Homo sapiens: one gene and its partners. The protein of the gene in region 2 interacts with the protein of the main gene of each other region in a pairwise test. Each region holds a gene or a part of one and is shown on either strand. Other genes may lie near its edges.

Region 1 (2,809 bases), on a different chromosome or scaffold from region 2:
AGAATCGCTTGAACCTGGGAGGCGGAGGTTGCAGTGAGCCAAGATCGCGCCATTGCACTCCAGCCTGGGTGACAGAGTGAGACTCCGTCTCAAACAAATAAATAAATAATTAAAATTAAAAAAATATAGAGATGAGGTCTCAAGGTTGGGGGGCCTGGTTGAGGGTACTGTCCTTCTCTTCCTGTTTGTCAATGAGGGGATGGCCCTGGTAGAGGGTACTGTCCTTTTCTTCATACAAACCAAGGATGTGTGAGCTCTCCTCGCAGCCTTCTTACTCTCCACTTTTTTTTTTTTTTTTTTTTTTTTTGAGACAGTGTTTCACTCTTGTTGCCCAGGCTGGAGAGTACAATGGCAGGATCTCAGCTCACTACAATCTCCACCTACTGGGTTCAAGCGATTCTCCTGCCTCAGCCTCCCGCGTAGCTGGGATTACAGGCGCCCACCACCAGGCCCAGCTAACTTTTTGTATTTTTAGTAGAGATAGGGTTTCACCATGTTGGCCAGGCAGTTCTTGAACCCCTAACCTCAGGTGATCTGCCCGCCTCAGCCTCCCAAAGTACTGGGATTACAGGCGTGAGCCACTGCGCCTGGCCCTTACTCTCCTTTCATTCAGACTTTGCCATCACCTAAAATCCTTAGGGGTACTTTGGGAGGCGGAGGCGGGCAGATCATGAGGTCAGGAGATTGAGACCATCCTGGCTAACACGGTGAAACCCCGTCTCTATTAAAAATACAAAAAAATTAGCCGGGTGCGGTGGCGAGCGCCTACAGTCCCAACTACTCGGGAGGCTGAGGCAGGAGAATGGCGTGAACCCGGGAGCCGAGATAGCGCCACTGCAGTCTGGCCTGGGTGAAAGAGTGAGACTCCGTCTCAAAAAAAAAAAAAAAAAAATCCTTAGGGGTATTTTCACATGAACTACTGTTAATCTAGAAGGCACCTTTGAATTTCTTAACCCAAATGCAGGTCTTTTCTTTCCATTTTCCCTAATACATATGCTCTTGTTACTTTTTTTTTCTTTTTTTTTTTTTGAGATGGTGTCTTACTCTGTTACCCAGGCTGGAGTGCAGTGGCGCAATCTTGGCTCACTACAACTTCTGTCTCCAGGCTCAAGCAGTTTTCCTGCCTCAGCCCCCCGAGTAGCTGAGATTACAGGTGTGAGCCACCATGCCCAGCTAATTTTTTTTGTATTTTTAGTAGAGACAGGGTTTCAACATGTTGGCCAGGCTGGTCTCGAACTTCTGACCTCAGATAATCCACCCATCTTGGCCACCCAAAGTGCTGGGATTACAGGCGTGAGCCACCACACCTGGCCTGCTCTTGTTACTTTTGATACAGGATTCCAGGTAGCTCGCTAAAATAAAATATTCTTCCTATTGAGCTAAAATTAGTCTTCCTGTCACTTCTGATTGTGGTCCAGCAGTCAGTTGTCCCACCAGCCTCCTGACCATCATGCAGCCTTGCATTTTCTCCCAATAGGTTTTCCCAAAATAAATATGTTCCTGCTCATGTAACTTAGCCTGCCATCTTAAACTCCTGGGGAATACTGGTTTCAGATAGAAGTTGGCTTAAGCAGTAAAAATCATCAGGGAGCTAAAGGAAGACTCAGTGATTGTCTGGTCCAGGCTTCCCATTTTACAAAGGGAAAATCACAACAGATTAGGGGAAGAGAGTTGCTCAGGTCAGTCGGCAATAGTGGCAGGACTAGAATCCAGGTCCTTTTCCTCTCTTATCCAGGGTCCTTTCTTCTTTACCATGGACAAGTTCATTAAGCAGTTTGTGCCTCAGTTTCATCATCTGTAAAATGAGGTCGTTATGAGGATTAAATGAGTTAATTCATGTAGAGTACTTAAAACAATCTAGTACTTGGTGCCAGGCGTGGTGGCTCACACCTGTAATCCCAGCACTTTGGGAGGCCAAGGCAGGTGGATCATGAGGTCAGGAGATCGAGACCATCCTGGCTAACACGGTAAAACCCCATCTCTAATAAAAATACAAAAAATTAGCCGGGTGTGGTGATGGGCGCCTGTAATCCCAGCACTTTGGGAGGCCAAGGCGGGTGGATCACCAGGTCAGGAGATCGAGACCATCCTGGCTAACACGGTGAAACCACGTCTCTACTAAAAATAAAAATAAAAAATTAGCCGGGCATGGTGGTGGGTACCTGTAGTCCCAGCTACTCAGGAGGCTGAGGCAGGAGAATGGCGTGAACCTGGGAGGCGGAGCTTGCAGTGAGCCGAGATTGGGCCACTGCACTCCAGCCTGGGCGACAGAGCGAGACTCTGTCTCAAAAAATAACAAGAACAACAAAAAAACAATCTGGTACTTGGTTCATTATACTATGCTGCTTCCTAGTGCAGAAGAGAAGCAGCAGTTACTCTTCCCTCCCTTTCACAGGTAAAAAAGAATAGAGGCACATGAATCATGTAATAAGTGGTCCTTCATATATTAAGAAGTGATCCTTCATATATTAAGAGGAAGTTGCTCTCCCCTCCCTCCATTGAGGGGTGTGTATTGAACATATCTTCCACGAAATCTGTGGCTGACCCATCCTCTGGGCTTCAAGCCCTCCTAGAGGTGGCTTCTTTGCTCTCCTCTTTACCTCTGCCCCTCAAATTGGCAGAAGGGAAGGTAATGAACAGGTTTGGGTTCATATCATGGCTTTGCTATTTCCCAGATGTGTGATCTTGGACCAGTCTTACTTAACCCTTGGAATCTTAGTTTCTTCATCTGCAAGAGGATAAATACAATGGAACACACTGCAGCTATAAAAGAATGAGAAAACCATTTTTATATTGATATAAAATGATC
Region 2 (4,187 bases):
CAGGTGTGGCTTGGTAACTAGAAAAACATTCCCAGCCTGGGAAACAATCTAGTGAGAGCTTGGAGGCAGAAGACAGAACTCTGATTACATTCAAGGAGTTTGCCAGATGGCAACAGATAACTGCCAATGTTCGGTTGCACTATAATTATTATACACTCTCTGTCACTTCAGCAAGCGCTCTTTTCACAAGACAAGTGGTGACAGAATGTTGTATTAAGATTACCCGTTGCTAAGCTTATGTTAAAATGAGGAAATGAAATGGAAAGTCTTGTTTTGGTAATGTCTCTGGGGTATGAGGAATGGAGGGAAAGGTTTGACTATGAGCATAACTGCATAGAGAATTTTGTTTGTTTATGCCTTTTGGGAATGCATTATTTTGATTGACCCTAATTGGGAATTCAGAGGGGGAGATTTCCTCTATTATCTATAAAGAAAGGATCTGCTGAGCAAACACAATTGCTAGGGTCATGTTTAAAGTACTTAATTGATCTGCTTTCAAGTCTAATTTAACACTTCAGGGGCTCCAAACATGTGATACATTGGTTACAAACTCATCTTAGTCTAATTTTAGTTAGTGTTCATATTAGAAAGTTATATAATACTTTTCTTTCTTTCAGATATATTCTATAATTCACATTTTTCACTAATTTTACCCAGTTCTCCTTCCACTCCCAATCTATCCAAATAACTGAGTTGAACTGTGTGAGTTTACTGCTCTATTAATTTATTGCCAGAGATATACAAACCATGACTTCCTCGGCTGTTTCAGATGAAACTGTAGATCCACGTGTAAACTTGCAATGCACAGCTTAGCTGGAAAGTTACGTGGAGCAGGTGACGGAGGGGATAGCTTTCACTGCTTGGACTAAAGTCAGTTTTGAAAGAGCTAAAGATGCCTATTGAATTCTGGAGTGTGTGTGTGTGTGTATGGGTGTGCATATGTGTGGGTGTAAGGCAGCAAACTCTTCACATTTCAAATAACTAAAGATATGGGTGGTAAAATGAAGTCACATTTTTACACCTCACAGGCTGACTAGGGAGAGCAGTCAAATGCAGCATCGATTGGTTAAAATTAGTCTATCATTCTTGGTTTATGATGTTTTAAAGACATGTTAAAGTTATTCATGAAGATGTAAAAGACACATTTAAAACCCACATCAATTGCACTAAAAGTCAACTGGAAACAGAAGGTTTTTAAATCCTGGTGGTGGCAAATTGGCAGCCAAAGGAACAAAGTCTTAGTCAACATATTTCCATGTCCCCCGAACACAAATAGCCTCGAACCTTCGGAGGGTGTTCCTTTGAGATGTTTCATCAGTGACATCACAGTGATTGCCAGCTTCCACGGACTACTTTAGGCGCTGCCCAGAGTCCAGGAGTCCAGACAGCCTGGGAGGGGAGAAGGAGTTGGAGCTCAAGTTGGAGACAGCGAGGAGAAACCTGCCATAGCCAGGGTGTGTCTTTGATCCTCTTCAGGTAACTGCAGGATTTTTATGCTTAGCATACGGTGTGTGTGTGTGTACAAGCTGCAAATGAGAAAGGCAGAGGAATGTTTGCATTTCTTAATGAAATAGGCAATGCCCCTTGGATACAGCATGCCTTAAGATATAAAGTGAGTACTATTGCTTTCTGTTTTCCTTTTTTTTTCTCCTAAGGGTATGCATTTTCTCCCTTCCTAGTAAAAAAAAATTTTTTTTCTTTCTTGTATTATGGAAGATGGTCTTTTTTCTATCTTCTCTAAGTCTCCATTCAAAGAAAGCCAATGTCAAACTTCCTGCACAATTTATTCAGAGCTTTTTGGGTTTTAGTTCATCCATTTGCAATCACTGGATCATATGGCATGACCTTGACTTCAGGGAATGTTTAAAATGAAACCCAAAGTGTCTTTATTGGTTAAAAGCAGAAAAATGGAACTTGGCTGATCTGAATTTCTGCCTAACTGGTTCATTCTTCCTAAAGTGTATAAATGTGTGTGAAAGGAATGTTCACACCACACCTTACAGTTAGCATATGTGTTGATTGAATTGAATTCACTAGAAATTCTCACCTTAACTCTTCATGTTTTATTCATCTAAAATCACATAAAACAACAAATATTCAAGGTCACCATTAAAGTGCAAGAAGTAGTAAGAGGTAAATCCCAAGAAAGAAAGAAGTGTGATGGGTAGCCTGCTAATTCAGAAATGACTGAAAAAAAAAAAGTTAAGAGTGCATAAACATACACAGTTTAAACAATAACTGAAAGGCAACACTTCTATAATTATCATCCAGGTCAAGAAACAGATCATTGCCAGCACCCAGAAGCCCATTCTTGATCAACCCCCATTCTGCCCCAAGATGTTGGGATCCTCTTGTCCCTGTTATTCTTTATAATTTGACCATCTATGTCTGCATGCCTAAACAATATGATTAACCTCCCTATTTTTGACATCATATAAATGGAGTCATATTCTCTGTTTCTTTTGTAAATTCTTCTTTCACCCAACAATTATATTTGTGAGATCTACCCATTTTCTGTGTAGCTATAGTTCATATATTTTCTTTGCTTTATGAAATTCAAATGTATAACTATACCACAATTTATCATCCATTCTGCTGTTGATAAACATTTGAGTTGTTTCCAGTTTGGAGTTATTGTGATAATATTGCTGTGAACTCTTTATTTATGTAACCTGGCACGCACGTCCTTGACTGTCTTAAGGTAGAAGTGAAATGCCAGATATTAGAGAATGAACATTTTCAACATTAATTCTAAGAAAGCTAAATTGTTTTCCAAAGTGGTTGAAAATTTATGCTAACTTTGTTTAGCCAGGCCAGTTAATTGCAGTGACAATTCACTTGTGTCATAACTCCTAGGAATTCTAGTAACTAGTTCCAGTCTGCTAATTCTAGCTTTGCCTCTAACTTGTTATCTGTCATTACACAAACATCTTAATCTCCTCTCTCTAAAAGTCAGTTTCTCAGCTGTAATCTTGAGAAAGATAAAAACTGCAGTAACACTTGCCTGAGTTGTTGCGAAGGTAACACAAACAGAGCTGTGGAACAGCTTTCAATAGTATTTTTCTCATTTTCTGAGTATATCCTGTTGGATCACTATCCATGATTCCCATGACTTAACAGCTTAATTTAATAGGCAGATTTGGTGGGACCGTTGTTTTGCTCTCCTTGAATTGTTTTGACCATTATAAGCCAGGCTTCATATTTTCTGCTTATCTCTGCATTTCTTGAGAACTTACCCAAATAGATGGACATTTGGACTATGGTTTTATTTCATTGATAAGTTTATAAGAAAGAGTCTGTCTTCGTTTCTCATTCCTTTGCCTCCAGGCACCTTGGCAAGACTCATTACCGTTCTGTTCTCCTCTGCTCTTTTGTACATTCTCATAAATCCTTTTTCCTTGATCCATTCATTTTATTCTGTTTACTTTCTCCTCCATGCAAATCTTTGTAAAGATTTTCTATTTTTTCCCCTTTTTATTTTCTTGGAGAGACAGGGTCTTGCTGTGTTATCCAGGCTGGTCTTGAACTCCTAGGCTCAAGTGATCCTCCCACTCCAGCCTCCCAAAGGGCTGGGATTAGAGGCATGAGCCACCACGCCCAGCCATTTGTAATGGTTTTCATTGGCAATTTACTATTTCCTTCATGCTGAGGTCTAAAAGATGGATAATAATTAAAAGGGAGATGAAATATAAATCTGTCATCATTTGGCTATATATCTACTGGTTGGCACCATCTGATTTGAACTTGTATTTTTTTTTGAGACAGGGTCTCATTATGTTGCCTAAGCTGGTCTTAAACTCCTAGGCTCAAGGGATCCTCCCACCTCAGCTTCCCAATTAGCTAGGACTACAGGTACCGACTGCCATGCCTGGCTGAACCTGTATGTTATGCCAATTACACAATATGAAAAATGATCATTCAGTTGGCATTTATGCAATTAACAATTTGGTCCATTGATAATATAATCAATACAGTAATTACAATTAATAATTCAGTCATGCTAGATAGTTTAAAAATACCACTCAGACCAAAAGCTTGCTAACAACCCTTTCAGCCTCTTGAACTCTCACCTTTAGCAAACACACAAAATACCCTTTCTCCCTAAACTTTCACTCTACAGTAGACTTTGGTCCTAAATGTCTAAAACATAGATATCGAATTATCTAAAATATATAAATCTTTAATTT
Region 3 (3,593 bases), on a different chromosome or scaffold from region 2:
TGGGTTAATGTGTGCAGCAAACCATGATGGCACATGTATACCTATGTACAAACCTGCACGTTCTGCACATATATCCCAGAACTTAAAGTATAATCAACAAAAATAATTTAAAAAAAAAAGAAATCAGTTCACTTAACTTACCAGAGTTATCAATTTGAACTCTGAAATTAAAGCCACCACATTTGGCACGTCAAAGCTGGAGGATCACTTGAGCCCAAGAGTTCAAGACCAGCCTGGGCAACACTGCAAAACCCCATCTCTACAAAAAAATACAAAAATTAGATGGGCATGGTATCGTGTGCCTGTAGTCCCAGCTACTCGGGAAGCTTAAGTAGGAGGATCACTTGAGCCCAAGAGTTCAAGACCAGCCTGGGCAACACTGCAAAACCTCATCTCTACCAAAAATACAAAAATTAGCCAGGCATAGGGGCATGTGCCTGTAGTCCCAGCTACTCAGTAGGCTGAGATGGGAAGATCACTTGAGCCCAGGGAGGACGGGGCTGCAGTAAACCGAGATCACGCCACTACACTCCAGCTTCGGCGACAGAGCGAGACCCTGTCTCAAAAAAAAAAAAAAAAAAGCCACCACAAGGTGTTTCTCTTTTACTCATACTCATTTGCTGCACTAAGGCTATAGATTGTTTCTAAAGACCCCAGTGCATGCTGGAAATCTTTCGAAGAAATTAGATCCTTTTGTTTCTCTGAGATTTTGCCACCAGTCCAAACCAAAAGAGCCAAATGGAGCGGCTAGCACATCCATTGACTACTCACTGCCAACTCCCTTCCCTCAGAACACAATGCTCTTCTGTTTCGAAGAAGCCCTCTCAGCAACTTGCTCCGTGTCAATCAATGGCCGAATTAAAAAAGGACGTCAGTTTCAAGTCTCTCAGGTCCAATTCCAAACACAAGAGCAACTTCTCCTCCACTAAAAATAGGATATAACAACTCACGTAAAAACAGTTTTTTAATAACTTACCTCAAATTCTTCCCAAAAGCCTTGTTTGACTTTATCTGTGGTCTCAGCTAATTTGCTTAGTTCTCGAACTCTGCTTTCTATTTCAGCAGCATTTATACGAGTCGTGTTAAGGGGCTGATCGAGTACAGCAGTTGATGTAAAATAAAGAAAATATTACAGAAAACGGTGTTAATGCAAAAAAAAAAAAAAAAACATGTCTATGTTGATATTCATAAAGGCACGGACAGAGGGTTCATAGGACCCTGTAATTCACAATAAAAGTTTTCAAATCGTTTCACCGTGTTTTCTGTTCAGCCAGAAAATGTATCTTTCTTCAGTCTTCACATACACTTTACTCTGCTGATATAAATTCAAGCCTATTTTTCTTTATGAATAGACCACATTATTTAGAGAGATTATATCATTTTCCACTATCATAAAGGTGAAATTTGAAATAGCAACAATGCCAAAGTGAATAAGTGAGGTTACCTAAAGGTAACCAGAAGTGGATCTATAATGAAAACTTGCTTTAAAACTCTGTACAGCCTTAGGCCAGATGCAGTGGCTCATGCCTATAATCCCAGCACTTTGAGAGGCTGAGGCAGGCAGATCACTTGAGGTCAGGAGTTCAAGACCAGCCTGGCTAACATGGTGAAACCCCATCTCTACTAAAAATACAAAAATTAGCTGGGTGTAGTGGCACCACCTATAATCCCAGCTACTCAGGAGGCTGAGGCAGGAGAAGCTCTTGAACCCGGGACGCAGAGGTTGCAGTGAGCCAAGAACACGCCACTGCACTCCAGCCTGGGCGACAGAGCAAAACTCCATCTCAAAAAAAAAAAAAAAAAAAAAGAACCTCTGTAATGCCTTTTACAGATAAATATGGGAATAATATAAATCTGGAATATGTTTCCAAGTACTATAGCGGCAGTCAGTGAGTGGAATCATAATAAGAAAAGATTTAGGGCCGGGCGTGGTAGCTCACGCCTGTAATCCCAAAACTTCGGGAGGCCAAGGCGGGCAGAAAACCTGAGGTCGGGAATTCAAGACCAGCCAGGCCAACATGGTGAAACCCCATCTCTATTAAAAACACAAAAACTAGCCGGGCATGGTGGTGGGCACCTGTAGTCCCAGCTACTCAGGAGGCTGAGGCAGGAGAATCGCTTGAACCCAGGAAGCAGAGGTTGTAGTGAGCCAAGATTGCAACACTGTACTCCAGACTGGGTGACAGAGTAAGACTGTCTCAAAAAAAAAAAAAAAAAAAAAGATTTGATAGTTGAAGCTGCAATGGGTACATGGAGGCTGATGATACTATTCTGTCTACCTCTGTATGTTTGCAAAATTCTCTATTAGGATTTGTTTTAAGTTTTTAAGGAGAAAGCTTGAGCTTTCCAATCTGCTCACCTGCTTGAGTTGTAGTACTGTACCCAATGTTTCCACCATAGGATTCTTCTTATAATGTTCCACAAGATCTGTCAAAGAATCAAACCGTTCTCCTCCACCAACGTCGTATTTCAGTTCCTTTCAAGATAAACACATGACATTTATTATTTGTTACCTTTATGTTACATTAGTGTTTTCAAGCACTCTCATGTTCACTGCAGCATTATTCACAATAGCTAGTATATAGAGACAACTTAAATGTCCATCAAAAGACAGATAATAGGCTGGGTGCAGTGGCTCACGCCAGTAATTCCAGCACTTTGGGAGGCCAAGGCGGGCAGATCATTTGAGGTCAGGAGTTCGAGACCAGCCTGGCCAACATGGTAAAACCCCATATCCACTAAAAATACAAAAATTAGCCAGGCTTGGTGGTGGACACCTGTAATCCCTGCTACTCAGGAGGGTGAGGCACGAGAATCACTTGAGCCCAAGAGGCAGAGGTTGCAGTGAGCCAACTGTGCTTCAGCCTGGGAGACAGAGGGAGACTCTGTCTCAAAAAAAAGATAAATAATAAAAATGTGGTGTGTGTATACAAATATACTAAAAGTGTAAATATACTCAATATACTCAAGTATGATAAGTATAATAATATATTAAATATGCTAATATACTAATACAGTAACTATACTAATATATTAAGTATAATAAAAGCATAGACGAACTTGACTAAGTAAGCAAAGAAAATCTGACTTTGGATCAGGCACAGTAGTTCACATCTGTAATCCTAACACTTTGAGAGGTTGAAGGAGGCAGGCCTCTTGAGCACTAGTTCAAGACCACACTGGGCAATGCGGCAAAACACCATCTCCACAAAAAATACAAACACTAGCTGGGCATGGTGGCACACACCTGTAGTCCCAGCTACTCAAGAGGCTGAGGGAAGATCAACTGAGCCCAGGGAGGTTGCACTCCAGCCTGCGTGACAGAGCAAGACCCAGTCTCAAATGAATAAACAAATGAATATTAAAAAAACAAAAACAAAAAAAAAAAAAAAACAGAAAATCTGACTTTGAATGTAATGGTGTTTGTCCTCTTCCAGCAGAAAAATCACCCAAAGATTTGGGTCACCAGACCCAACGTGGTGAAACCCCATCTGTAGGTGATAGAGCAAGACCCTGTCTCAAATAAATAAATAAATAAATAAATAAATAAAAGACAATCTGACTTTGAATGTAATGGTGTCTGTCTTCTGTCA
Region 4 (3,593 bases), on a different chromosome or scaffold from region 2:
CGGGCACACGCCATCACACCTGGCTAATTTTTGTATTTTTAGTAGAGACGGGGTTTCACCACGCTGGCCAGGGTGGTCTTGACCTTCTGACCTCAGGTAATCCACCCTTCTTGGTCTCCCAAAGTGCTGGGATTACAGGGGTGAGCCACTGCACCGGGCCTGTGCTCCTTTTTCATTTTGGTTGTCTCAGAGATTTCTTTACATTTACTTTGATTGAGGGTCCAAACAAGGTCCATCATTGCTTTTGGTTGAAATGTCTTACTTCTTTTAATCTGACAGTAATTTCTGCCCCCTCCACCCCGACCCTGGTACTCTTCAGGCCCTCATTCTGTGGAAGAAAGCAGGTCCCTTGTCCTGTAGGATTGGTGCGTTCAGATTAGGCTGATTGCGCTCTTGTTCCCTGTGGTTATGTTCACCACTTTCCTCTATCATTATTTCTTATAAACTGGTAGGTAGATCCAGGGCCTTGTCCAGACTGTTGTTCAATTTCTTGGCAAGATTGGGTGGTGCTATACATATCAAATTGTGCCATTCAGGAGTAATGCCAAGTCTGGTTGCCCTATTAATAGTATAATCATTTCCAATTTTATAAAGGAGTAGAGAGGCTAAGAGACTTGGCAAGGTCACATGGTAAATGGACTCAAACCTAAATCTGTGTGATTCCAAATTCTGTTTATAATCCTCAGACTCTCATGTGAGCCAGACACAGCCCTGGGTGAGAATGGGACACAAAGGGAATTAGGCTCTAGAGGTGGCGATGGATGCAGAAGCGGGTAACAATGCACGAGGTGGGCTCTGGTGAGGCCTACAGCCTGGGTACCATGGGAGCACTAACAGGCTTCCTGAGGAGGCGTTGCTGAGTCTTCAAGGCTGAGGGCAGTTAGCTGGGAAAACAATAGGCCGGAGAGGGCAGCCCATGCCAGCCATGAAATGGGACCTGAACATAAAATGGCCCAGATTCCAGTCTAAAGTTTAGGGGCACCAAAAACCTATCAAGTTGCACAGGGTTTCAAAGCGAGGTGGTCACTGGGGAAATGCACTTTGGGGCATGGAGGCAGTCCAGAGTTCCCTTTCACCACGCCCCTCCTCTTGGCACTCCAGGGGATACACCAAGGCCAGCCTCTCCCTCCCTCCAGCCAGCTCCAAGTCCTCCATCAGCTGCTCTCCCTCTGTCTCAGTGGGCCTGGGCTGCCAGGTGAAGGGCAGAGGAAGGACGGGAAAGGAGTGCTGTCTCAACATCTGTCCACCTGGTAGGGATTTGCAGGCCAGATCCTGGGCCACTCGGCAGGGAACCTGGTTACTCAGCTGCTCCTGCCTCCTTCTGCAGTAACCTGAGACAGCTCTGTAGGTTCTCCACAGGAAGGCTGCCTGGATCTTCAGTGTCTGAGTGTCTTGTTACTCCAGCATTATTCTACTGTAACTTGAGAACTCAATCTATAGATGCTCTGTAGGCAGCTGTGTGGAGGGGGAAGGTAGAGGGGAGGGAACCAAGAATAGCTCCAGTTTATCGAGGGCCGAGGGTGTCCCAGATGCTGCTCAAGGCACTCAACCTGGCAGCAGGCCTTCCTGGTGGGGAGGAGGTAGAGATGAGACTGCTGGTTGCTATTTACCCTGCTTACTCCTTCTGCTTTTGTCGAGGGATCTACTCTCTCTGTCTGAGGGCAGATGGGTCCCAGCCCCAGCCATGGGAGTGAGTCAAGGTGGAAATCTTGGCAGATGCAGGAAGCTCAGCTGGTTAGCTAAGCCAGCAGCCATTCTCACCCCTTCTCACTTGTTCACCTGCCACTCTAGAGGCTGAAAAAGGTCACATATTCTCCTGGGCTCCTTTGCAGCTGGGGGCGTTATGTCAGCCAGTTCTGGCCAGTGAGATGTAAGAGCTGCTGGGGGTGGGGTGAGAGGCTTCTGATGAAAGGAGCCACGAGAGGGGCATTTCCTGGCTGCCCCCCCCCTTTTTTTTTATTTTGAGACAGAGTCTTGCTCTGTCGCCCAAGCTGAGTGCAGTGGCACAATCTCGGCTCACTGCAAGCTCCGCCTCCTGGGTTCACGACATTCTCCTGCCTCAGCCTCCAGAGTAGCTGGGACTATAGCGGCCCGCCGCCATGCCCAACTAATTATTTATTTATTTATTTTTTGTATTTTTAGTAGAGACGGGGGTTTCACCATGTTAGCCAGGATAGTCTCGATCTCCTGACCTTGTGATCTGCCCGCCTCGGCCTCCCACAGTGCTGGGATTACAGGTGTGAGCCACCGCGCCCAGCCTCATGGCTCCCCTTTGCCCCACGTTTTCCTACTTTGAATGAGAACATGAGATTGAAGCTGTTGCAGTCATCTGCAATAATGAGGCCACAGGCAGCCAGGGAGCCACCAAACCTCCCAGAGACCACCTTCTTCCCAGAGACCACCTTCTTCCCAGAGACCACCTTCTTCTAAACCTCTGGTTAAGGAAATGAATGTCGTGTAGATTGAAGTCATCATTTCTTTGTTCTCTTCCCTGGAGCGTTCTGGACCCATTAGTGGCCATATTATCCATGTAGTCTGGTTATAATGGCTGAATGGCAATGAACTGTAAGGCAGGAAGTTCTGCCAGGGGGCTTCAGGGAAAGTTTTTCATTTTTAAAAATTTTTTTTGAGACAGAGTCTCGCTCTGTCACCCAGGCTAGAATGCGGTGGCACAATCTCAGCTCGCTGCAACCTCTGCCTCCTGGGTTCAAGTGATTCTCCTGCCTCAGCCTCTCAAGTAGCTGGGATTACAGACGCCTGCCACCACGCCTGGCTAATTTTTATATTTTTAGTAGAGGTGGGGTTTCACCATGTTGGTCAGGCTGGTTTCGAACTCCTGACCTCAAATGATCCACCCATCTCGGCCTCCCAAGATGCTGGGATTACAAGCGTGAGCCACTGTGCCTGGCCTTTCATTCTTTTATTTACTTTTTTTGTTTTTTTTTGTTTTATAGAGACGGGCTCTCACTATGTTGCCTAGGTTGGTCTCGAACTCCTGGCCTAGGCAATCTTGCTTTGGCCTCCCAAAGTGTTGGGATTACAGGTGTGAGCCACCATGCCCAGCCGGAAAGTTTTTCTTTTCCTTTTTTTTTTGAGACTGAGTCTTGCTCTGTCGCCCAGACTGGAGTACACTGGTACCATCTTGGCTCACTGCAACCTCTGCCTCCTGGGTTCAAGCGATTCTCCTGCCTCAGCCTCCCGAGTAGCTGGGATTACAGGTGTGTGCCACCACACCCGGCTGATTTTTTTATTTTTAGTAGAGATGGGGCTTCACCGTGTTGGCCAGGCTGGTCTCGAACTCCTGATCTCAGGTGATCCACCCACCTCGGCCTCCCAAAGTGCTGGGATTACAGGCGTGAGCCACTGCGCCTGGCAACTTTTTCATTCTTAAAAAGGGATGTTCTGAAAGAAACTGTCACATCCTGCTGCATTCCATGTCTCACATGGTACAGCCATCCTGCTGTGAGATTCCCATTGCCCCAAGGGGGTGAGTTTTCATGGAAGAGCCAGAAAATAGCAGAAAGATTTTGGATTTCAGTGTAAAAAACACTGCACATGTAGGACAAAGATATTTTTTGGGAATACATGATCTG

What was found.
Region 1: the proteins of SLN (region 2) and TMEM79 interact in binary tests that used the Homo sapiens proteins (3 or more experiments, as listed by UniProt).
Region 3: the proteins of SLN (region 2) and PTPN11 interact in a two-hybrid assay, tested with the Homo sapiens proteins (one large-scale study listed by BioGRID and IntAct).
Region 4: the proteins of SLN (region 2) and KASH5 interact in binary tests that used the Homo sapiens proteins (3 or more experiments, as listed by UniProt).

What each region holds. Positions count from the first base shown.
Region 1 is NC_000001.11:156,287,325-156,290,133, forward strand, and holds part of TMEM79 (transmembrane protein 79), read left to right. Parts: intron 1-2,809.
Region 2 is NC_000011.10:107,709,252-107,713,438, reverse strand, and holds the start of SLN (sarcolipin), read left to right. Parts: upstream 1-1,382; 5' UTR 1,383-1,476; intron 1,477-4,187. UniProt on the Homo sapiens protein: Reversibly inhibits the activity of ATP2A1/SERCA1 and ATP2A2/SERCA2 in sarcoplasmic reticulum by decreasing the apparent affinity of the ATPase for Ca(2+). Also inhibits the activity of ATP2A3/SERCA3.
Region 3 is NC_000012.12:112,453,447-112,457,039, reverse strand, and holds part of PTPN11 (tyrosine-protein phosphatase non-receptor type 11), read right to left. Parts: intron 2,477-3,593; coding exon 2,360-2,476; intron 1,091-2,359; coding exon 977-1,090; intron 1-976. UniProt on the Homo sapiens protein: Acts downstream of various receptor and cytoplasmic protein tyrosine kinases to participate in the signal transduction from the cell surface to the nucleus. Positively regulates MAPK signal transduction pathway. Dephosphorylates GAB1, ARHGAP35 and EGFR.
Region 4 is NC_000019.10:49,401,742-49,405,334, reverse strand, and holds part of KASH5 (protein KASH5), read right to left. Parts: intron 1-3,593. UniProt on the Homo sapiens protein: As a component of the LINC (LInker of Nucleoskeleton and Cytoskeleton) complex, involved in the connection between the nuclear lamina and the cytoskeleton.